3 separate regions of the Homo sapiens genome follow, and all the other regions are linked to region 2. The links come from fine-mapping of genetic effects on gene expression. A gene starts in region 2. Each other region holds a variant in brackets. All regions are shown on one strand. Distances are from middle to middle.

Region 1 (8,184 bases), 52 kb before region 2:
AGTCTTGCTCTGTTGCCCAGGCTGGAGTGCAGTGGCGCAATCTCGGCTCACTGCAATCTCTGCCTCCCGGGTTTAAGGGATTCTCCTGCCTCAGCCTCCTAAGTAGCTGGGATTACAGGCGCGTGCCACCACACCCGGCTAATTTTTGTATTTTTAGTAGAGACAGGGCTTCACCATGTTGGCCAGCGTGGTCTCGAACTCCTGACCTCTGGTGGTCTGCCCGCCTCGGCCTCCCAAAGTGTTGGGATTACAGGCGTGAGCCACCGCACCCGGTCAGGTGACATCAATTATGAGTTACTCTGTTTAGCACCAAGTGGAAGATAGGCATTTAAAAAGATTTGCTGAATTACTGGACTGAGTTGTTTAGTCAAGCCCTGGTCACACAGCTTACAGCAAACTCAGAGAGTTTCTTCATGACCTACTTTCTCTATATACCACACATTTCTGGACAAAATGAATTTGCCTACCCTTCCTAAGTCATTGATGGAGTGGAGGAGGAACACACCTTGATTTAATCTGTTCTGGTTATCTATTGCTGTTACAAACCACCTGAAAATTTAGTGGCTTAAAACCACCATTTTGCTCACTAATCTGTAATTTGGGCAGGGCCAGCTAGTCTCTATTCCAGTTGGTGTCGGCTGGGGGCAGCTGGAATGGACTAGAGGAGCTTCCTCCAAGGAGTTTACTCACATGGCTGGCAAATTAGTGTTGGCTCTTGGCTCTCAGTTGTGGACATTGGCCAGAGAACTGGGGCCGGGGTTTGGGGGGTTTCAGTTCCTCTCCATCTATAGGATTCAGGGGATTCTTGGGTTTTCTCACACCATGGTGCTGGGTCCAAGAGCAAGTGTTTCAAGACACTGAAATGTAAGCTGGCAGTCACTTAAAGACCTGGTACTGGAAACTGGCACAATAGCCCTTCCACTGTGTTCCACTGATCAAGCAGACCCAGAGCCACCCAAATTTAAGGAAAGTAGACATAAACCTCATTTCTTGACGGGAGGGATGTCAAATAATTTGTGGCCATCTTTTAATCCATTTCACCAACCTTACTGACTCTAGGAACAAATGGGGATAAAGATAAAAAGTACCCACTCAAGGATGTATCAGATAGTGTGCTAAACATTTATAAATACATTGTCTCCTTTTGAAATATTTGAGACCTTACAAAAACAAAAAACCGGTATGAGGTGGGTAGTATCTCCATTTTACAGACTGGGAAACCAAGCATTAGTGGGACCTGGGTCCAGTCCCACTCCAAAGGGCCTATTTCAACCATCATGCTATATAGCCCCTAATCCCTGGGTTGTTAAACCATATTCTTGGAAATCAGAACGTTTTCTCCTGAATACAGAATGGCCTTTTTCCACTTGTAGCAAAACTAAAAATTGACTTGAATACACTAAATGTTTTTCCATTAATACTCATTTTTAAAATCCTTTGATTGGGGGTTGGCACTAGGAATTCTTCTGAGTGAATAAATAGCAAAAGGTAAATGATGGGCAATATTGGAAAGAGCTGATCTTAGGTGGATGGTTTGTTTTCATGGATACACATTCAAGATGGTTGAAACTTGTGCAAAAGTCATTTTCTGCCAGTGAAATTGTGTCAGTTTTGTGACTGAATCAGTTTCCTGGCACTCTGCAAATGGCACCATGACTTTCTTCTGCTCTATGTTATTTTAAAAAGGGGCAAATTCATTAAAAAACTTTTTTGGCTGAAATGCTGGATTTCCCCAGTGAATCACCTGACAAAATACCATAATTTTTTGTTTTTCTCCCTGGTAACAATTTATCAGTAGTAAAAGTCTAGCTTTTAATTTCTCTTAAATGCTTACATTCAGTTCAGAATATGGATGTACGACTTTACGCTTCCACATAGCTTGCTAACCCCTAGTTTTTTCTTTGATAGGGAGTTCCTGTCTTTCCCTTTGAGGTGGCTCCAAGTTTACAATTTAGCTTCCATCCTGGATGATTTGATCAATTTAATATTGAAGCCCTTTTGTTTTATGATCTAGAACTTAAGAACAGGAAACGTAAACCACCCTAGGAACAAAGTTCAAGGGTAGATTTTTAGAAAGCTGTTACACTCCTGCATTCCTTTGCCTGGCAAATTATTAATTCCATCTATTTTTCCTTCTCTCCACTAAATGTACAGACTACCTTTAGTTTCAGCTGGACCACACATTTCTTTACTGGTCTATTTCCATTTTTTTGCTTGTCCTTTACCCCCAGCCCACCCCACTCCTCCATTCCATTCTCCAAATAGAAGCCAGAGCCATCTGTTAGAATTATCAAGGCACTTCCATGCTTAAACACCTTTGCCTTCTACTGCACTTAGTATAAAACAGAAAATCCTTCACATAGCCTTCATGAGCAGTTCCCTGGCCTCTCCAACACTGTAGCATTACCTATTCTACCTACTTGCTTCCTATTTTTCCAGTTACAGGGGCCTTCCATCGGATCCCCAAACCCACTGAGACCCATTCTTCCTCAGTTAGTGCCTTTGCCTAAAATGTTGTGTTCGCCTAGCTACCCAGTCCTAGAAGCTAGTCCTCAGTCTCTGCCAGGCTATGTCCTACTTCCTCCTTTAAGTTTCACTAATGTTACTTCCCCAGTGAGGTTTCTTCTGACACTCCCACCACCATCTAAATTAGGTCCCCCTCATTCTCTCTAGGACCCTATTCTTTTCCACTAAAAATCTGTTACAATAAACACAAATATATTGTCTTCTCCCCACCTTAGGAACAAACTTCAAGGGTAGATTTTTAGAAAGCTGTTAGGCTCCTGCATTCCTTTGCCTCGCAAATTATCTATTAATTCCATCTATTTTTCCCTCTCTCTACTAAATGTACAGACTACCTTTAGTCTCAGCTGGACCACTTCCAAATTACTGTTAGACATAATAATAGACAATAATTAGACAAGCTTATTAGACATAAGCTCTACAAGCATATTTTGTATGCCACATAGGCACAGTGCCCAGCACATATTAGGTGCTCAATAACAATCTGCTGGATGAGTAAGTGGCCTTATTCTTAATTCTAATACTTGATTCTCTCCTACTCCCAAAAGTAGCCCTTAAAGTCTGAGAGTATAATGTCTTGGAACCTTAGCAGTATACACCAATGAAAGTTGTGAAATCTTAGTCAAAAAAGGCAACAGATGTTTTATTCTTCAATGCAAATTACTGTATTCACCACAAGCTAAAGAAGAGAACATGTATCCTACATATATATTTATATATATATATATTTTTTGTGTGTGTGTGTGTGTGTGGATTTATGGAAGACTAAAGACACGGAAAAAAATCCAGCACCCCAACATGTACAGCCAGGAAGGAAATCAGTTCTGTAATAGGACAGGTATAATGAACTACAAACAAGAAGGGGTGGAAAAAGAAGAAAAAAAAATGTGCATTGAGTTTAAGACACTGTAAAACTCAGAAGACATATTTACTATTCAAGTATAAACTCTGTAAGGACTTGGCATAAATTGAAAGGCAGCTGCTGAGGTACACCATTATAAAAGAAGTTCTATGAATTTACAATTCTACCTTCCAATTTCCTGGGAGAAAAAACCAAACTCTTGAAGGTCTTCACCAGAGACCCTGAGAGGGATTAACACTTTTGATGAAGACATAGTCAATAATTCATGATTGAACTATTCAAAAACATGTATTTATTTAGAACAATAGAAATACGTGTTCTCAGACTGTCCTCTAGAGTTTTTGAGACTATTAGTTCAAGAGTTTCAAAGTATATTACTTGTAAAAACAATACTGATTAAAAAAATTTTTTTTAACAAAAAAACAGAAATCTGATTTGATGGTACCTTGAAAATACCCTAAATACCAAATTTTCTCCAACCTAACATTACAGCTAATTTAAGAATTCCTCCTTCATTGGTAAAACATTTTTTCCTCATTAAATGTGGGTACTGAAATTGGATAGAAACACTATGAATGTGAAAATACCACCAATTTTCTGCAGTAAAAAAAAAAAACCCAAAAAACAAAAAAACAAACAAAAAACCTAGAATGTTCTTTGGAATCACTGAAATATCACAAACTTGGGTTTTTTCTTACAGTCTGTGCACCTTCTTTCAGGTTCTCTGTTTTGCTTGTAGTACTGACTGTGTGATTCTAATTTTTATAGATTCAAGTCTTGCAATGCAATATCCATGCTTGACACACCGGTGTCTCTGACCAGTGAGAAGTTATGCATAACCCAGAAACGCTGTCATTTACATCTCCATAAAGACTTCTGCCCCAAATAAAAACTTCAGAATGACACAACACATCCTGTGTTAAACAATCAAATGAACCCAACAAGGGGGATTCCAGTGTGATTTCAGTACTTGGGAGGGCATTGTCTGCTATGGTTTCTCATGGAAGTACCACAGGCCTGGCTGCTAGCATTCAGCTTTCCTTGGCCTTAAAAGGGATTTTCTCAGGGCTGGCAAGTTGGATTAGATTCTAAGAGAATTTTGTCTTTGACAAACTACCATTTTTAGCATAAAATCTGGCCATGGCTATAAGTTTCAATGTGTGTACAACTGATTAGAG[AGT/T]TTTTTTTTTCTTTTTCTTTTCAACATTGGCTGGAATTGAGTAGAAAAAAGTCCACGATGCCTCTTCACATGTGTCATGAAATATGAGAAATCTGTCTGATTCTAGATACTATTTCTTTACGACACAATGGGCAGGTCTCCAGCTGCAAGGCACAATCCATGCACAGGTCACTGGGGAGAAACACAGAAAAGTCAGTCAAGTTAATGCTTCAAAAGGTCAAACTCCAACTGCCTGCCAACTAAATCAAAAATGTTAACAAGTTTGTTCATTGAAAGGGTTACTAATTATACATGGTTTAAAAAAAATGAATATGTAAATAAAAAGTAAATCTTACATTTCTGATCCTCAATTGTCTTAGTCTGTGGAACAAGTAAAAAGTTCATATGCATTCTTTCAGACACTCTATATGTGCACAGCATATACTTACAGATGTGCACTTATAGGTAGGGATATAATATTTCTCCCCAGAAAGCTAGCCATTTATCCCAGAATCATTTACCAAACAGTCCATCTTTCACCACAGTTTTGACACAATGCCTTTGTCATATGGTAAATTTTCATTTTTAGTTAGTTCTATTTCTGGGCTTTTATTGTATTCCATTATTCTGCCATTCTTGTCATATAGTAATGGGACCAAACTATTAACATTTATTTTAATGTATTTTAAGATGTGGTATGGTTGTCATCTCCCTAACTTTCAGAATTTTCTTGCCTTAAACTTTTAAATCAGCATGTCAAGTTCCAGAAAAAAATCATGTTGCTCTTTTTATGTTGAGCAAATTAAACTTAGAGTTTAGAGAAAACTGTCACCTTTACAATACTGAGAGGTCCTCCTATCCAAGAAGAGACTCATTTATTTAAGTCTTCTGTTATACTCTTTGGTAGTTTAAAAGTTTTCTTCATATACGCTCTACATATTTCTTGCTATGTATTCTTAGATAGCACTTTTTTTTTTAACCATGGTAAAAGGGATCTTCAATTATATGTTCTAACTGGCTGCTATTATACATATAGCTAGAAGAGCTACTGATTTTTGTGTATTTTGTAAGTCATAGTGGTGACAGTAGGCATCCTTATCTTATTCCCAACATCTCTTGAAATGCTTCCTATGTGTCACCATTAAAAAGATGCTAGCTGGTGAAACCCCGTCTCTACTAAAAATACAAAAATTAGCTGGGCATGGTGGCGGGCACTGGTAATCCCAGCTACTTGGGAGGCTGAGGCAGGAGAAATCACTTGAGCTCGGGAGGCGGAGGTTGCAGTGAGCTGAGATCACGCCACTGCACTCAAGCCTGGGTGACAGAGCGAGACTCCGTCTCAAAAAATAAATAAATAAATAAAAATAAATAAATAAATAAAAATAAAAAAATAAAGAGATACTAGCATTTGGCTGAAATATATGTGTTTTTTGTATTGTTATGGAAGTATCCATCCATTCCTATTTTATATTGTTTTAGTCCATTCATTTCTGTTTTGTAGTATTTCATCCATTAGGAATGGATATTGAATTTTAACAAATGCTTTCTCAGCATTCTTGAAGTGATAACTGCCCCTCTCCTGCCTCTGGCCTATTTGAGTAATTATATTAAAGATTTCTATATTGTAGGCTGGGCATGGTGACTCATGCCTGTAATCCCAGAACTTTTCGGAGGCCAAGGCAGGTGGATTACTTTAGGTCAGGAGTTCGAGCCAGCCTGGCCAACATGGTGAAACCCCGTCTCTACTAAAAATACAAAAATTAGCTGGGCCTGGTGGCATGCGCCTGTAATCCAAGCTACTCGGGAGGCTGAGGCAGGAGAATTGCATGAACCCAGGAGGCAGAGGCTGCAGTGAGCTGAGATCACACCACTGTACTCCAGCCTGGACGACAGAGCAAGACTCCATCTCAAAAAAACCTGCCTTTGCCTGGGCTGGAGTGCAGTGGCACGATCTCTGCTCACTGCAACCTCCACCTCCCAGGTTTAAGCAATTCTTTGTCTCAGCCTCCTGAGTAGCTGGGATTACAGGCGCCCACCACCACGCCCGGGTAATTTTTTTTGTATTTGTAGTAGAGACGGGGTTTCACTGTCTTGGCCAGGCTGGTCTCAAACTCCTGGCCTTGTGATCCACCCGCCTTGGCCTCCCAAAGTGCTGGGATTACAGGTGTGAGCCACCGTGCCCAGCCTAAGATTTCTGTAATTGTACCATCCTTGCATTCCTAAGATAACTCCCCCTGCCAGTTGCGTTGCTAGGTCTTACTTTCTAATATTTTATTTGGGAGTTTTAGATTTATATTCATAAAAAAATAGTTTTTTCTTTTTATGAGTTTTATCAGCTTTTGGTATGATTACTAAAAATAACATTGTGGTTTTCCTACTTTCTCTATGGTTTGGCCAAGTTTAAATAGAATTGGGCTACCTATTCCCTGAAAGTTGTAAAGAGTTCACCTGTGAAACTAGCCTTAGTACTTGTGGAAGAGAAGGCAAAGGTAGCTTTGATAACCATTTTAACTTCTTTTATGGTAACAGGAATGCTTAGATTTTCAGTCTCCTCTGGGGATTGACTCTTGTAATTCATTTTATCCAGGTTTCCTTTCTTTGTCCCTATATCCCTTTTAAAATTGTTGTTGCTGCTCAAAGTTTAGCTAAATTTTCTTATAATTCTTTTAATGTCCTCTTCCAACTCTATTTTGGATATATATCTACTATGGAGACTATGATCATACTTAAGATACCTAGTTCTAAAGTTTTATATTTCAGCACTCATTAATGACCCCTTGTATTATGTGCAAGACCACAGGACCAGAGAGCTCAAAGATGATTAAGACCAGATCCAGCTGTTTGAGATCTTAACATTCTTACAGAAACAAAGATCAAAAAGGGCATGAAGATATCCAACCTTTAAACTCTGCATCTGTCTGTGAGGCCCTGATAACTAAACCCTCCAAATATGCTCAAACTGAGAAATTCTGGGCTGTAGAAGTAATAGGGAGGATTAATCACAGCTGGAATCACTGTGCCTTTCTTTCAGAAGAGAGGCTGGTATAGCTAAGGGTGAAATGAGACACACTCTACTTCCCTTAAGTGCACAGCCAATTAGATAACCCGTTTCAAAAGACAACAAACGTAGAGAGGCAGAGTCAGGGGCCCAGGCTGAGTCATTCCTGGGGATGACAAACTGGGTTCATCACTCCAGGCTCTGGACCCCTGTGGAGCCACGTGACTAAAGCTATGTCAAAAATAAGACCAAGGCAGGGTATGGGATATGATGAATTACAGGTAGCTGGCTTGTAACATCAACTTGAGTGTTGCTCATAAACAATCGGCACACATTGACTGGCCAGGACGCCACATTGCCCAACTGCTCTTCTCCTTTCTAAACTTAGTTGGGCTAGCCTTCCTGGGGACCATCTTACTTGCTTCTCTTGCTGATGCTCACTCTGTTCTATAGGGTCCAGGCTGCCCTCTGAGTTCATCTCATACAACTGAAATTTAGTAAGATGACATGGAGGCTGCTAACTTCTCAATGGTTGACTGTAAATAAGAAGTAAATGAGGAAGCTCTAAAACTAAAAGAGTGCCTAGGAAGCTCATAAATAGCATTAAACCTGTTACATTTTGTGAAGCCAAAATTGTATCAA
Region 2 (8,280 bases):
AATCCTTAGTAATTCACTTGGTAGGTTATTAATAAGTAGCCCTTAGGCATACCTAAGTATGAACAACTATGAAGCAATAAAAACTTAAAAAAACAAACAAACAGTGCTATATTTCCCATGTGGAGGGACTGGGCAGAAACCACATCTTGAGAATCACTGCATTAAGGGAACACAAGAGCGAAAACAATTCTTCAGGAGGTAGAGGGGTAAGAAAAAACTAACACTGAACATTAAACTATGAGGTAATATACTTGCTGAGTAAGGTATTTCAAACCTTCTATTTGAGGTACATAGGACCTATGAAATTACGCCTGGAAACTATAATTTCAAGCAACAAGAAAGCTATGTGCAGAGTTCATTCCTTAACAAATTTAAGGAGTACATAAATTCCTTACTATTTCAAATGTATTCTCAGTTTTCAAAAGCTCAGAAACAAAGCGGAATGTTCTCTAAGAGGCCACCACTATTTATAAGATAACTTTTCCTGATTTAACCTTGTATATACCACACATTTATCTAAAGTTACTACTTTTACATATTTAACCAGCAACCACTCCCTTTTGGAATGGACACATTTGTATGTTTTCTCTACTCACAAAGGTTGGCAAGAAAAGGATTTCAAAAGCTGACTTACTGAATGATAAACCAAAGGGAAATATTCACTCCTTTGCACTTCTAAAAGTTGTAAAAGTCCCCTCCAAAAGGCTGTTGCCCAAGTTACGGCATTTACTACTTCGTGATTATTCTGCTTTTCAATTTTCTAATTTGAATATCAGGGAAAAAACTACCCAAATTCAATGATAACTGCCTTGAAAATGCCAAAAGCTTGAAGAGAAGCTAAATCCATAGTTTATTATCCCCAAATAATTCTTTTGAAATAGATTGCTGGTTCCACTGTGTTTCCCATTTGTGGTGACTACTGACTTTCCACTTATTTTGCAATCCTGAGACTATCACACCCCACTTTACAAGTATCCTACTAAAAAATACAGAACATTTCCTATTTATTTATTTGAGACAGGGTGTTGCTCTGTCACCCAGGCTGGAATGCAGTGGCTCACTGCATCTTCAACCTCCCAGGCTCAAGAGATTCTACCACCTCAGCCTCCCAAGTAGCTGGGACTATCTGCATGTGCCACCACGCTGGGCTAATTTTTGTATTTTTTTGTAGAGATGGGGTTTTGCCATGTTGCCCAGGCTGGTCTTGAACTCCTGGGCTCAAGTGATCCTCCCGCCTTGGCCGCCCAAAGTGTTGTGATTATAGGTGTGAGCCACCATGCCCAGCCATAACTTCCAATCTTAAGTAGTGTAATAGTGATTACTACCTTCAAGAATTCCTAACATTTTCTCCAAACTATATAGAGTGTGAAAGAAAGCTGTATTTAAAAAGATGCAAAGGGATTTCCCACTTCATTAGAACAAATTACTTCATTGTTAAGGAAAGCATATACAATTCTCAACAGACTAAATTAAGCTCACGAGGCCAGGCATGGTGGCTCACACCTGTAATCCTAGCACCTTGGGAGGCCAAGGTGGGTGGATGGCTTGTGCCCAGGAGTTTGAGACCAGCCTGGGCAACATGGCGTAACCCTGTCTTAAAAAAAGTGCAAAAATTGGCCAGGTGTGGTGGCTCGCACCTGTAGTCCCAGTTACTTGGGAGGCTGATGTGGGAGGATCACCTGAGCCTGGGAGGTAGAGGCTTCTGTGAGCCGTGATTGCACCACTGCACTCTAGCCTGAGAGACAGCATGAGACCCTGTCTCAAAAAAAAAAAAAAAAGAAAAGAAAAGAAAAAGAAAAAACAGAAAAAAAGAAATACAGAATAATTGTTTGTTAAACTCTTGACAAAACACACTTTTTTTTTTTTTAGCCTCCAGGCCCCACAGTGCTACATAACTCAGATTTGTTGTTTTTACCTGATTCACTACAGATTAACACACTATTATACAAAATGCTAAGTTTTTATTTCCCTTTGATACTTACTAAATGAAAAGTTATTTTGCTGACAAAAGCAGAAGCCCACATAGAGTATGCTGGTATACCTCCTATAATCAATAACTTGAAAATAATCACTGAGGGCCAGGCACAGTAGCTCATGCCTGTAATCCCAGCACTTTGGGAGGCCAAGGTGGGCAGATCACTTTGAGCTCAGGAGTTCAAGACCAGCCTGACCAACACGGTGAAACTCCCTCTCTACTAAAAATACAAAAATTAGCCAGGCACGGGTGGTGCTTGCCTGTAATCCCAGTTACTTGGGAGGCTGAGGCAGAAGAATTGCTTGAACCCGGGAGGCAGAGGTTGCAGTGAGCTGAGATCGCGCCATTGCACTCCAGCCTGAGGAACAAGAGGGAATCTCGGTCTCAAAAAAAAAAAAAAAAAAAAGTCACTGAGTACAGAAAAAAGCATAACATAGAAAGACATTAAATAGTAGGTTAGGGCAACATGCATCCTGGGAGATCAAATAACTCACAATCACCAGTTATAGTTTTTAAAAAGATCCACAGAATATAGGATCACAAAAACAGAAAATTCAGAGCAGTACAAAAATTACTTCGAAAGGCAGACACAGTGGCTCACGCCTGTAATCCCGGCACTTTGGGAGGCCGAGGCAGGCGGATTACAGGACGTCGGGAGTTCGACACCAGCCTGACCAACACGGAGAAACCTCGTCTCTACTAAAAATACAAAATTAGCTGGGCGTGGTGGTACATGCCTGTAATCCCAGCTACTCCGGAGGCTGAGGCAGGAGAATCGCTTGAACCCAGGAGGCGGAGGTTGCAGTGAGCCGAGATAGCGCCACTGCACTCCAGCCTGGGCAACAAGAACGAAACTCCGTCTCAAAAAACAAACAAACAAAAAAACCAAAAACACAACTAAATTACTTCGGAAAAAATCCCATATAAATTGCCCGATATTTGGAAAACCATCTCTAACAAGTACGACGAACCAAACACTAGTAAAATGTCATACAGGGACACAAGTCTCTTACAATCTCATAGAGGGATCTACAAAGCAAGATACCATCCCAGGAAATGATTGCCCGATATTTGGAAAACCATCTCTAACAAGTACGACGAACCAAACACTAGTAAAATGTCATACAGGGACACAAGTCTCTTACAATCTCATAGAGGGATCTACAAAGCAAGATACCATCCCAGGAAATGCAAAGTCCACATAAGGGGAAAAATAAAGAGAACCACTGTGCAAGAGAAATTTAAAAGCAACTTCCAACATGCCTCATAATCTATAGTCTAGGGCTACCACAACAACGCATAGTATTCGTGGAGGAAAAAAGGCAGTCTTTACAAATCACAACTGAGGGAGAAAGTATGATATTCACTGCCTGTAGACATCCAAAAGCCATGCATATATATATGCAAAAGGGGGAGGAGGTTTACAATGTTGAGATCAAATTACTTAGAGGAAAATTTCAGCTGTTAGGGGAAAATAATTCCTGAAGGAAAAGATATTACAGTGGTAACTCCTGCCAGCACCATAAGAAGTTCAAAGTAAATGAAAACTCTGAGAGCAAAAGCTGGAAATCCCACCATCCCCATCTAAGCAGGGTTTGAAACCATGGGTTTAGATCTTAATATGACCTAAGAAGCTGTGAACCTTGAAGCTTTCAGTACAATATGGCTCCCAGCACTCCGCAGGTGACAGACAACGACTGTATTAATCCCACCCCTTACCTCTACATACTACTTTACATTTTAGAAAGTGCCTTCACTTTTATTCCTCAACAGCAACCCGTTTGGTGGTAGAATCACACTAACTTACGTTCACGCAGCTTGTAATTTGTACTTTCACATACTGCGCTGGTTATTTTACAGTAGAGACTTAAGGAGGTTAAGTCACTCCACTAAGCAAGAACAGATGGTAGGTAAAGGGCCTGGAAAACTGCGGGATTCTACTCAGTCGATAACAGACACTTCTAACCCTTCAAAGTTCAAAGTACAACACTCCAGGGGGAGCAACCTCTCTCAGAGAACTATACAAGACAGGACCTCGGAGTCTCAGCCGACCGCCTCGGTCTCAGTCGGTTTCCCTCCCCAAAGACGGGGAAAGTGAGGCAGCAGGAGAGACAAATGCCTAATTTGGACTCACGCAAGGGGTGTTGGTGGGATAGACTCTCCCCACCCCACTCGGGCAATAAGCCCGGAAGCAGTTGGATCCTGTGTCTGGGACACCTGGTCGATCTACAGAGAGAGGGAATAATTCCCGTTTCCCTTTCACTACTCCCCACTCTGGCTTTCCTGTGGATGGAGGTGTCTTCTTCCCATCACCGCCCAGAAATCCCCTCTCCCCAAGGTCCTTACCCAATTTTCAGCTCCGGCTTCCGTAGTAGGACATTCCGCTAGTTCTAGCTCCTGCTTCCTAGCCCCATTCTCTCTCTATCCCAAGGCGTTTCTAAATCTCCCCGGGGAGGTATGCCTCATCCGTGCCACCTAGACCGTAAACTCCACAAAAAGAACCCTCCTAAAGCGTCCCTTCATCTACCCTTTCTATCCCGGGCACCCCTGAGTAGGTCAGGACCCCATCGGTACCAGGAGCCACCCCAGGAGATAGATAGCTGCCTCTCACCTGGGCCCTGTTAGCCGCAGCCTCCTCAGAAGGGCGACCCCCAAGAACCTCTTCTGGTGAGGACCCCCGAAAGAGGGAACACCCTCTTCTAGGAACCTCTTCAGATCCCTCAAGCGCGGGCCTCGGTGGAAAACCTCTCGGCTGTTTCTCAGGTTCTGACCAACGCCACCTCTCTCCCGGGCCCTTTCCAGAGCCTACCCCGGCCCCAGTCCGGTCCGCCCGCCCCAGGCTCGAGCGGCTGTTCCCCTCCCTCACAGACGTCCCCAACCCTCAGACTCCCTCCCGTTCCGCGTGCCCAGGGCTCAGAGCAGCGCGGTCGGGCTGTGGCACTGACTTTCTCTACCTCCCGGGCCCACCGGAGGGAGGGGGCGGCGGCGGCGGCGCGACTCCTTTGTGACAGGTCCGAGAGAACGGCAAAGATGGACGCGAGGCCACGGCGCTGCCATTACGCGCAGAGCCCACCCCCGCTTCGTACCGCCCCAGCCCTCCCTCAGTCCCCTAGGAAACGCCCCTTCCTCGGTGGCAAGCCCTCTCCTTGACAGCCAATCACCTTTCAAAAATCGTGTCACGTGATCAGCGGGACCGGCCCGCCCTCCAGGCGCAGACTGGCCAGTCCTCATCCTGAGGCGTGAATGGCCCAATCAAGTCTCTCCGGCTCGTTTTCAGGGTACCGGATTTCCATCGGGCTCCCGGGGAGGAAGAGCTCCGCGGATTGGGTTACGTCGCCGGAAGTGGGGCGGGACTCTATTGTGGCGGTGAGGAACAGGAAGCCCTGAAGGGTCAAAAGAAATACAAAAGCAAAGGCTATTTTCTTTTTTTTTTTCTTTCTTTCATTCATTCCTTCCTCTGTTTCTTTCTTTCTTCCTTTCATTTTTTTTTCTTTTTTAAGAGCGAGCGGCTCTGCGGTGGCGGTTTGGGGTGGGCGCCGCCGAGGTGAGGTCGTCTCGCCTCCCGCGCGCCGGTAGGTGAGTGCGGCCTCGGTCCTGGCCTGGCGGCGACACCTGGGTTCCAGCTTCCTTACGGAAGAGATGAGCTGCGGCTGCTGTTAGGGTTAGGGCCAGGCCTGTTCTCAGTCCGCGCACCCGCTCCTTGTCCGGAGTAGCCGAAGCCTGGGGCTTGCGGGCCCAGCCTGAGGGGAGCTGAGGGTGCCCGCGGGAAGGCATCTGGGTCGCGGCGAGGACCCTTTCAGGCGGGCCCAACACTGCCGGGCGTTTAATGGGGTTTCCCCAATTTTCTGCTAGGTAGGGCCACCCAGGTTTCAAGTGAGTAGCAGGCTCCGTTCCAGAGGTCTTGGAACAGGTCCAGGTTACTCACTCGGATGTGCGGCGTCTGGTTGGAAATGGTTGAATCCCAGAATGGCAGTGCAGGATGGGAAGCACATTTATTGTGTGCCATGTACCAGTTGCTGTGCCAAGCGAATTTTCTATTACGGAAAACAAGCCAGCTGGCCCGTTTTGCAGAAAACTTAAGAAACAAAGAGAGTTGAAGCGTCATGCTTGAGAGTTGGTGGTCCTTGTGACTGTCAGTCCACACAGAGGAAAGGGGGAGACCTGTTTGTTCGTAGTCGTGGTTCTTTAATGTTAGTGGAAAACAAGATCTCCTGGGGCCCTTTTAAAATGCAGTTTCTCAGACTCCCGCACGCTCGGGTAGCCCGACTGGTTAGTTCAGGAGTGGGACCCAAGAAGCCAGATGCGAGCCTGGTGATCGGAATTCCCGATGACCTCTTGCCTACCACCTGTGACATAAGATTTGTCGATTCATCAGTTATTTGGTGTATTCATGTGTCCACAGGGACACCATAAAATGGAAGGCACCCTTCTGAAATATTTGAAGGGAATCAGTGGGTAGACTCCTTTTTGATACAAAGTATTGAGCCGACAGCAGCTTTTACAGTCTTTTAGTTAGATGACCTGCGAACAATTTGTAAGGATCTGAAAGTAGAGGCTGCCCGATTATCTTTCTCAACTGAAGTCTTCATGTCCTTACCCTGTGGGGAAGTGCTTCATGATATAAGAAAGGAATAATTGTGTCAAAACCATTTAGTTGATTATCAGTCTTCACTTTCATCTTCCAAGAATGGTGATGCTTGGTTAGAATCAAGCTGCTGCTTTAGCTATTGAAAACCACGTATGTGGTAAATCAAGTAACAAGTGCGATGTACGTACAGGGTCAGTCATAGTGTAATTATGCCTTTATGGCAGCTAAATTAAGCATTTTCAACGTGTTCACCATTAGTCACCTTTTGAACATACTTTGTCTTCATTCTTAAATATTATGTTTCACTCTTTACTATAGAATATGTTGTTAAGATTGTTTTGTCTAAAATCAAGTATCGACAAGTTTAAAAAAAAGATTGTTTTGTGTTTGGTTTTCTGTATTTCCACTATGCTCTATGGAACTATGGGTTTGTTTTTGTTCAATTTGTTTGGTATTTATTAGACTTCTTGAATCTGTGGATTAGTGTCTTTCATTAATTCTGTAAAATTCTCAGCCATTTTATATGCATATATTGCTTCTTCCCATTGTTTCTCTTTTTTTTTTTATCGATTTAACTAAACCTTTTCACTCTTTTCTCTATGTCTTTTACTCTGTTCTTTCGTAGTACATTCTGGATAATTTATTCTCAAGTTATTTCCATTGTTATTAAACTCGGCCTCTGAAATCTTAAATCATATATTGCAATTTTTAGTTTCTGAAGTTCTGTTTGGTTTGTGACACTTTTACAGTTTTTTATTTCTTACTATTTTGAGGCTTAATTTTATTTCTTTAAACATGGAAAGTATAGTTGTTTTTATAATCTCTATGTTTAATTCCACTGTCTGAATTCCCTTTGGGGGAGTCTGTTTCTGTTGTCCATTATTCCTGCTGTTTTACTTCCCAGTTCACCTTTACTTTGAAGCTGTAGTTCTTTTGGGCACAAGATTAAGATGGAGAGGGAGGTAGTTGTCAGACTCCACTCCCTGGATGGGCTCCTGGCTTGAACTTGTTTCTGTTATCTCATAAAGGCACTGAAACTTTAGCTTTTAGGTCAGAGAAGTCCTCAGGATGAAATCCATTTTGAATATTGGGCTTAATTTCTGGTTTTCACCTTCTAGATTGTGTCCAAATTCTTTACTATCTTGTTAGCTTTTCTATTTAAGAATTAATATTTTTGGCTGGGCGTGGTAGCTTACACTTGTAATCCCAGCACTTTGGTAGGTCGAGGTGGGCAGATCACTTGAGGTCAGGAGTTTGAGACCAGCCTGGCCAACATGGTGAAACCCTGTCTCTACTAAAAATACAAAAATTAGCCAGTCATGGTGGCGGGCACCTGCAATCCCAGCTATTCGGGAGGCAGAGGTAGGAGAATCGCTTGAACCTGGGAGGTGGAGGTTGCAATGAGCTGAGATCATGCCACTGCACTCTAGTCTGTGTGACAGAGCGAGACCCTATCTCAAAAAAAAAATTATTTTTGACAAATTTCCAGCATATTTAGTGCAGAGGTGGAGAATTGGTTTCAATTACCTAGCCCACTATTTCAAGAAATGAAAATCCCCCTGTATTCTGAAATTTGGAATGTGAAATTTGTGTGATTTCCAAGTTAAAGATGGTTATTCTTCATATACCTAAAATTTCCACCACTTTTCACTGTGCATCGTCACAGCCATTATGAAAATTAAGCTTCCCCAATGCTTATTCTAGTCTTCCTTTCTGA
Region 3 (8,000 bases), 28 kb after region 2:
CCTTTTGGTCTAGAACCTACTTTTAAAAAGAAGAGTCTGGGGGAAAAAAAAAGGAGCCTGCCTTTTACCCGTATCTCTTCCATCTAGTTCTCCTTAGAGGGAAACAGAATTATACTTTTTTTTTTCTTTTTTTTGAGATGGAGTCTCACTCTGTCACCCAGGCTGGAGTGCAGTGGCTCAATCTCAGCTCACTGCAACCTCCGCCTCCTGGGCTCAAGTAATTCTCCTGCCTCACCCTCCCGAGTATTTGGGATTACAGGCGTGCGCCACCACACCTGGCTAATTTTTGTATTTTTAGTAGAGACAGGATTTCACCATGTTGGCCAGGCTGGTCTTGCACTCCTGACCTCAAGTGATCTGCCTGCCTCGGCCTCCCAAAGTGCTGGGATTACAGGAGTGAGCCACCAAGCCCAGCCACATTTCTTATGTAGCCATCAAGAGCTATTCTATGCATGTGCAAGCAATTGTAAATATGTATCTTTTAAATGCTTTATTATGGATAATTTAAGCAATATTCAGAAGTTGGAATAAGTATAATAAACCCCCATTACCAAGCTTCACTGATTTTTTTTTTTTCTTTGTAAGGTATCTCCTACAGGAAAGACCGTCAACAATTTTTTTTTTTTTTTTTTTTGAGACAGGGTCTTGCTCTATCACCCAAGATAGAGTGTAGTGGGGTTATCTTGGCTCATTGCAGCCTCTGCCTTCCTGGTTTAAGCAATTTTCATGCCTCAACCACCCAGGTAGCTAGGACTACAGGCATGTGCCACCACGCCCAGCTAATTTTTGTATTTTTAGTAGAGACGGGATTTCGCCATGTTGGCCAGGCTGGTCTCGAACTCCTAGCCTCAAGTGATCCACCTGCCTCGGCCTCCCAAAGTGCTGGGATTACAGGTGTGAGCCACCACACCCAGTCAGCAGTTTTTAACACATAGCCAATTTTATTTCATTTATATCTCTCAACTGTAATATTTTGTGACAATTCCAGACATTATATCATTTCATTCATAATTCTTAATATATGTCTCTAGCAAATACAAGTTCTTATTTTGTTTCTTTGTTTTAACAATTACAGTACCATTATATTAATAATCACAGGCCAGGCGCAGTGGCTCATGCCTATAATCCCAACACTTTGGGAGGCTGAGGCAGGCAGATCACCTGAGGTTGGGAGTTTGTGACCAGCCTGACCAACATGGAGAAACCCTGTCTCTACTAAAAATACAAAATTAGTCGGGCTGCTGGCTATGCCTGTAATCCCAGCTCCTCAGGAGGCTGAGGCGGAAGAATCGTTTGAACCTGGGAGGCAGAGGTTGCGGTGAGCCGAGATTGCACCATTGCTCTCCAGCCTGGGCAACAAGAGCGAGACTCTGTCTCAAAAATAATAATAATAATAATCACAGTAATTACCAAATATTATCGAATATTAAGTTAGTATTTTCTCCAATTGTCTCAAAAAAGTTTTTTCTTTTTAAAAATTATGATCTTGGCCGGGCGCGGTGACTCCCACCTGTAATCCCAGCACTTTGGGAGCCGAGGCGGGTGAATCACGAGGTCAGGAGATCAAGACCATCCTGGCTAACACGGTGAAACCCCGTCTCTACTAAAAATACAAAAAATTAGCTGGGTGTGCTGGCGGATGCCTGTAGTCCCAGCTACTCGGGAGGCTGAGGCAGGAGAATGGCATTGAACCCAGGAGGTGGAGCTTGCAGTGAGCAGAGATCACGCCACTGCACTCCAGCCTGGGTGACAGAGGGAGACTCCGTCTCAAAAAAAAAAAAAAAAAAAATTATGATCTTAGCAAGGACCAGACATTATATTTGGCTACTATGGCTTTTTTTTAAAAAAGTATTGAGGTATAATTCACATACCATAAAATTCACCCTTTAAAAGGATACGACTCAGTGGTTTATATTTTTTAAAAATCAGTTGACCATAAATGTGTGGGTTTATTTCTGGACTCTCTTCTTCCACTGAGCTATATATGTCTATCTGTATGCCATTAGCACACAGTCTTGATCACTATAGCTTTGGAGTAAGTTTTAAAATTGGGAAGTGTGAGTCTTCCAACTTGGCTCCTCTTTTTCAAGATTGTTTTGGCTATTTGGAGTCTCGAATTTCCATATGAATTTTGGGATCAGCTTGTCAGTTTTTGCAGAAAAGGCAGTTACGATTTTGATACAGGAATTGTTGGAATCTGTAGATTAATTTGGCAATGTTGCCATCTTAGCAGTAGGCTAATATACCTTTTAATTTGAATTTAATCTGTAAGTTCTTCCTTTCTAAATTTATATTTTGTTTTCTTTGTATTTTATTTGTGGAGAAACTGGGTCTTTGTTCTTTAGCATTTCTCTGGCTCTAGATTTTACTGATTGCATCCCCATGCTGTTTCCTGCTACCTTGTGTTTCCTGTAAAATGGTAGTTTGATCTGGAAGGTTGATCAAGTTGGTTTTTTCGGCAAGAATACATTATATACTGTTTTCATACTTTCATTGTTAGTAGTATTTTAATCTAACCTACTCTGTTCATTGCTTAATTCAGCAGTTATTGTACCTTGGGAATCATTGCATAACTGGACATAGAGCACTTCCTCGTTCCTTTTTAAGGCTGTGTAGTATTGTATATTGCATGGGTATATCATTTATCCTACTTTTTAATTGATGAACACTTAGATTGTTTCATTCTTTCCCTGTTCTGATGTTTCAGTAATAATCCTGCACATGCATAATTTTTCACATGCACAGATCTATCAGGTTAAATACTTTGAAGTAGACTTGATAGGTCAGAGAGGATATACATTTGTAATTTAGGTAAATATTGCCAAATTGCCCTTCAAATAAGTTATCCCAATTTATACTCCCATCAGCAATTTTGGAATTTTTCACTGACATCTTTTTAATAAATAGGAAATTTGCTTAAATAGGATAAATGTATACTGTATATGTGTATACACACACACACATAAAGCTTCATAGGAATATTTTTCTTTTTTTTTTTTTTTGAGACGGAGTCTCGCTCTGTCGCCCAGGCCGGACTGCGGACTGCAGTGGCGCAATCTCGGCTCACTGCAAGCTCCGCTTCCCGGGTTCACGCCATTCTCCTGCCTCAGCCTCCCGAGTAGCTGGGACTACAGGCGCCCGCCACCGCGCCCGGCTAATTTTTTGTATTTTTAGTAGAGACGGGGTTTCACCTTGTTAGCCAGGATGGTCTCGATCTCCTGACCTCATGATCCACCCGCCTCGGCCTCCCAAAGGGAATATTTTTCTTTTAATTAATTTTTTTTTAGAGATAGGATCTCACTTTGTTGCTTAGGCTGTAGTGCAGTGACTATTCACAGGTGCAGTCATGGCACACTACAACCACAAACTCCCAGGCTCAGGTAATCCCCCACGTGAGCCTCCTGAGTAGCTGGGGTTAAATGCTCTTGGCATAGGAATCTTAAATGTATTTCTACAAGTAAGCTAGTCGCTCTTTATATGGTACTTATTTCCTGGTAGGAACTATACAAATGAATCAGTGGAAAGGAAAACTTGTGTGGATTCTTTGAACTATCTCAGGCAGACAGCTGTGTTTCAGAGCCATCTTTTTGTCATTCTAAATCCCTTCTTCCTACTCCTGCATTCTTGCAACAGAAACCAGGCAGGAAGTGTCCTCCTTTGCTAGGAATTAAGGCTCCACAAGAAGAACGCTCCCTGAAGCTTGCTTCAGCCCTGTCCTTAGCAGTGGGAGGATTTCCGTCTTGGGCCCCTATGACTCTGATAGAAATTCAGGCTTCCCCCAGCGAAGATTTTGAACTTAAGCACTGAGCAGAGCCAGTGAATGCACAAGTTGGCCCCATCTACTCCCAAGTCACGCATCTGTCTGAATACTAAGAACATTCTCTATTAGTAATTTTCTGTGTTAATTTGGTATGACAATGTGGTCCTGCAAATGCAGAAGTTGGCAGGAAACTTCACCAAATGGGTGAGATCAGAGGGCACCATTTTGTTCTCTTTGGACAGTTAACTGCTTTTGGAATGAAATTTGTCAGATTTGCAATCTCTTTTCTTTCTTGAAACCTCCTAGATAATTGGGGTATTTGGTCTCTTCACTTAAACTCTTCTGATACCACAGTGGTCCAGATTCCTTGATTATATTTCTGTAGCTAACTTCCATTCTTCCGTTAGGCCAGTTCTCTACCCCCACAGGCACTCTGACTTTCATCCTTCTTTTCTATGTAAAATAGAACTTTAAATTCCATTCGCCCTTGAAATATGGTCATGTGCCACATAACGCCATTTTGGTCAATGATGGGTGCATATATGATGGTGGTCCCATAAGATCATAATATCGTATTTTTACTATGCCTTTTTCTATGCTTAGCTATGTTTAGATACACAAATACTGACCATTGTATTACAGCTGCCTACAGTATTCATACAGTAACATGCTGTACAGGTTTGTAGCCTAGGAGCAATAGGCTATATACCATGTGGCCTACATGTGTAGTAGGCTATACCATCTAGGTTGTATAAGTATTCTATGATGTTCACAACAATGGAATTGTCTAATGATGCATTTCTTAGGTCATATTCCCATCATTAAGCAGGGGTGTCTGTACTTGATAAAATGAAATACCTCATTCAACAATTTCACATAAATTAGTTTTCTAGGTAACTGATCTATATATCCTTTTAAGGTTTTTTTT[C/TC]TTTGTTGGTTTGTTTTTTTATTTTGAGACAGTCTAGCTCTGTCACCCAGGCTGGAGTGGGGTGGTGCGATCCCGGCTCACAGCAACCTTCACCTCCCAGGCTCAAGCGATTCTTCTGCCTCAGCCACCCAAGTAGCTGGGATTACAGGGGTGTGCCACCACGCCTGGCTAATTTTTGTATTTTTAGTAGAGACAAGGTTTCCCTGTGTTGGCCAGGCTGGTCTCGAACCCCTGACTTCAGGTGGTCCACCCGCCCCAGTCTCCCAAAGTGTTGGGATTACAGGCGTGAGCCACCACGCCTGGCTGGTTTGTTTTTTTTAAACAACCAAATTTTTCTAACAGAATGCTGAAAATATCATTCTATCTGGTATACATAAGTACTACAATGTATTTTTAAGTCATGAATGGTATAGTTTGATGTTATGTTCCAAATGTTAAAAGAGCATCACATTTTTATACCCCTTCCCCCCAAATTAGCCATTTGCAATGAAACTGTAAACTGTCTGACACATTTTCCTGCATTCTGATTTCTGACCCTTGTGAATGCAAGCCTGCTCTGAGCCAGGCCCTGTGCTATATGTCCTGGGGGTGGAATGGTGATAAAAGAATGCTTGCCTTCAAGGGGCTTACCGTTAGTGGAGAATACACACAAGCAACCCCTCTCATCTTCTACAGCCTTCTTAGCTTTAATACTGGGATGCTCTTGGGGTTACAGAGATAAATGGGACTATTCCTCCCTAGTTTAAGGGCTCAGGATGTTCTTTGAATTTTTGTATTTGCTTTTTTAAAAAATTGTCTACCCAAGCACAGCTGCATTTTAAAAAACTGTCTGAATTGGTAATATATGCACATAATAAAACATTTAGGCCAGGCTAGGTGGCTCATGCCTGTAATCCCAGCCCTCTGGGAGGCTGAGGCGGGAACATCACTTGAGCCCAGGAGTTTAACCTGGGCAGCATAGTGAGCCTTATGTTCTTAAAAAAAAAAAAGAAAAAAAAGAAAAGGAAAAATTCAAAAGGGACAAAAGAATGTGGAGTAAAAAGTAAGTCTCCCCCATTTTCCAGCCACTCATTTCCTTTCCCCTGAGCAGCCTCTGCTACCAGTTTTTATTTATTGTTCTCAGACACTGACATGCATCTACATGGGCATGGCCACTTTGCCCCAGATTGTAACTTTCACACACTGTCCTGCTCCTTGCCTTTTTCATTTAGCACAATATCTTGGGGATCATTCAATAACAGTACACACAGAGATGCTTTCTTCTTCTTCTTCTTCTTCTTTTTTTTTTTTTTTTTTTGGAGATAGGTTCTCGCTCTGTCACCCAGTTTGGAGTTCTGTGGTGCGATCATGGCTCACTGCAGCCTCAGCTTCGCCAGTTCAAGTGGTCCTCCTACCTACCTCAGCCTCCTGAGTAGCTGGGACTACAAGTGTGCACCACCACACCCGGCTAATTTTTTAAATTTTTTGTAGAGACAGAGTCTCCCTGTGTTGTTCAGGCTGTTCTCAAACTCCTGGGCTCAAATGATCCTCCTGCCTTGGCCTCCCAAAGTGCTGGGATTACAGGCATGAGCCATTATGCTCAGCTACTTTATTCTTCTTCATGGTTGAATAGTAGTCCATTACTTAACTAGTCATCTATTAATGGACATTTTGGTTGTCAGTACTCTTTTGCTACTATAAACAGTGCTGCAATGAATGTTCTCTTATGAACATCATTTAAGTTCGAAGAACTTTGCCAAATTTCTCTGTACTCCCTGAACAGCAAATGAAGTTTGCTGTTCCTAACATGTTCCCTCCTAATATATTGTTTATCCCGTTATGTTTAAAATTCATCTGTTTCTTTTTCTTTGAGTTGTTCATGTTTTCCATTCACTTTTCTATTTGGTTGTTGGTTGTTTTTTTAACAGATTTGGAAGAACTCTTAGTATCTTAAGGAAATTTGCTTTTATGATAGTACAAGTATTTGCTCCTGCCTTTTTTTTGTAGCCTTGCTCTATCTCTGTAGCCACTGTCGGCTTTCATTTGACTTTTCTCCATCTCCGTGTTTTAACATTGCTTATCTTTGGCAACTTCCTTTTCCCTTCTTAGAGCTTCTTGCACAAACAAGCAAATACATTGATCTCCTGAACTTTGTGTGCGGGCCGTTTGATATCTCTTCTAACTGCTCAGTGGTATTGTTTGCTTACTCCTGGTTTCCTATACTTGGAACTGTGTATTCTTTTCACATTTACTTGAGGTGTCTGGGTAAATGAGGTGTTAGTGCATCTAAGGCAAAACCCTAGAAGGTAGTATGCTTGTCAGCCTGTGGCAACAAAGTATGAACTCCAACCCTTACTCTGCAGTGAGCTCAGGTTATCATTTTCGTATGTTCTCTTTTGATTCACGTTTAGTTTCACATTTTCTGCCCTAAGCAACCTACAACCTTGCCAAGTCATTTGACTTTCCTCATCAGTAAAATGGGGATAATGCCTATACATCAAGTTGTAGTGATTAAATAAGGCCGGAAACATTTCAGGGAAGAATGGAAGGGCTGGAGTAGAGTTCTTAACTTTTCCTTTCATCTTCAAGTCCTGCATTTTCTTTTCTTCCTCCTCCTTCTTTCTTTCTTTGTTTTGTTTGTTTGTTTGTGTGTTTGTTTTTTGAGACAGGGTCTTGCTCTGTTGCCCAGGCTGGAGTACAGTGGTGCCATCATAGCTCACTGTAACCTTGAACTCCTGGGCTCAAGCAATCCTCACATTAGCCTCACAAGTAGCTGGGACCACAGGCATGCACCACTATACCCGACTAGTTTTTTTGTTTTTTTTTGAGGCAGTGTCTTGCTCTGTTGCCCAGGCTGGAGTGCAGTAGCGCGATCTCAACTCACTGCAACCACTGCCTCCTCCTGGATTCAAGCTATTCTCCTCCCTCAGTCTCCCTAGTAACTGGGATTACAGGCACGCGTCACCACACCCAGCTAATTTTTTGTACTTTTAGTAGAGATGGGATTTCACTGTGTTGGCCAGTGAACTCCTGACCTCAAGTGATCCACCCACCTTGGGTGGTCTTGACCTCCTGACCTCAAGTGATCCACCCAACTTGGCCTCCCAAAGTGTGGGATTACAGGCATGAGCCACCTCACTTGGCACTGTCTAATTTTTCAAAACATTTTCTCGTAGAGATAGGGCCTCACTATGTTTCCCAGGCTGGTCTTAAACTCCTGACCTCAAGTGGTCCTCCTATCTCAGCCTCCCAAAGTGCCAGGATTATACGCATAAGCCACCATGCCCAGCCAAGCCCTGCATTGTCTAGATTGAGGTCTTTGTCATTGAGGTG

The links.
Region 1: its variant is fine-mapped to the expression of RSPRY1 in whole blood (INTERVAL, PIP above 0.99).
Region 3: its variant is fine-mapped to the expression of RSPRY1 in whole blood (INTERVAL, PIP 0.92).

The regions. Positions count from the first base shown.
Region 1 is chr16:57,235,431-57,243,614 of GRCh38, reverse strand. It overlaps RSPRY1 (ring finger and SPRY domain containing 1), which reads right to left. Exons shown (of 15, transcript NM_133368.3): 15 at 3,146-4,736. The coding sequence ends at 4,640. Among named protein-coding and RNA genes, the nearest start is that of ARL2BP, 5.7 kb to the left of the region's middle. RefSeq lists an enhancer at 8,023-8,152. The variant AGT/T (reference allele first, on the strand shown) is at 4,564.
Region 2 is chr16:57,183,092-57,191,371 of GRCh38, reverse strand. RSPRY1 (ring finger and SPRY domain containing 1) reads right to left here and starts at 5,043. Exons shown (of 15, transcript NM_133368.3): 1 at 4,921-5,043. PSME3IP1 (proteasome activator subunit 3 interacting protein 1) reads left to right here and starts at 5,333. Exons shown (of 7, transcript NM_024946.4): 1 at 5,333-5,551. RefSeq lists enhancers at 3,703-4,347, 5,659-5,708 and a silencer at 4,749-4,958.
Region 3 is chr16:57,155,299-57,163,298 of GRCh38, reverse strand. The region is part of intron 6 of PSME3IP1 (proteasome activator subunit 3 interacting protein 1); the gene reads left to right. Among named protein-coding and RNA genes, the nearest start is that of PSME3IP1, 27 kb to the left of the region's middle. The variant C/TC (reference allele first, on the strand shown) is at 4,689.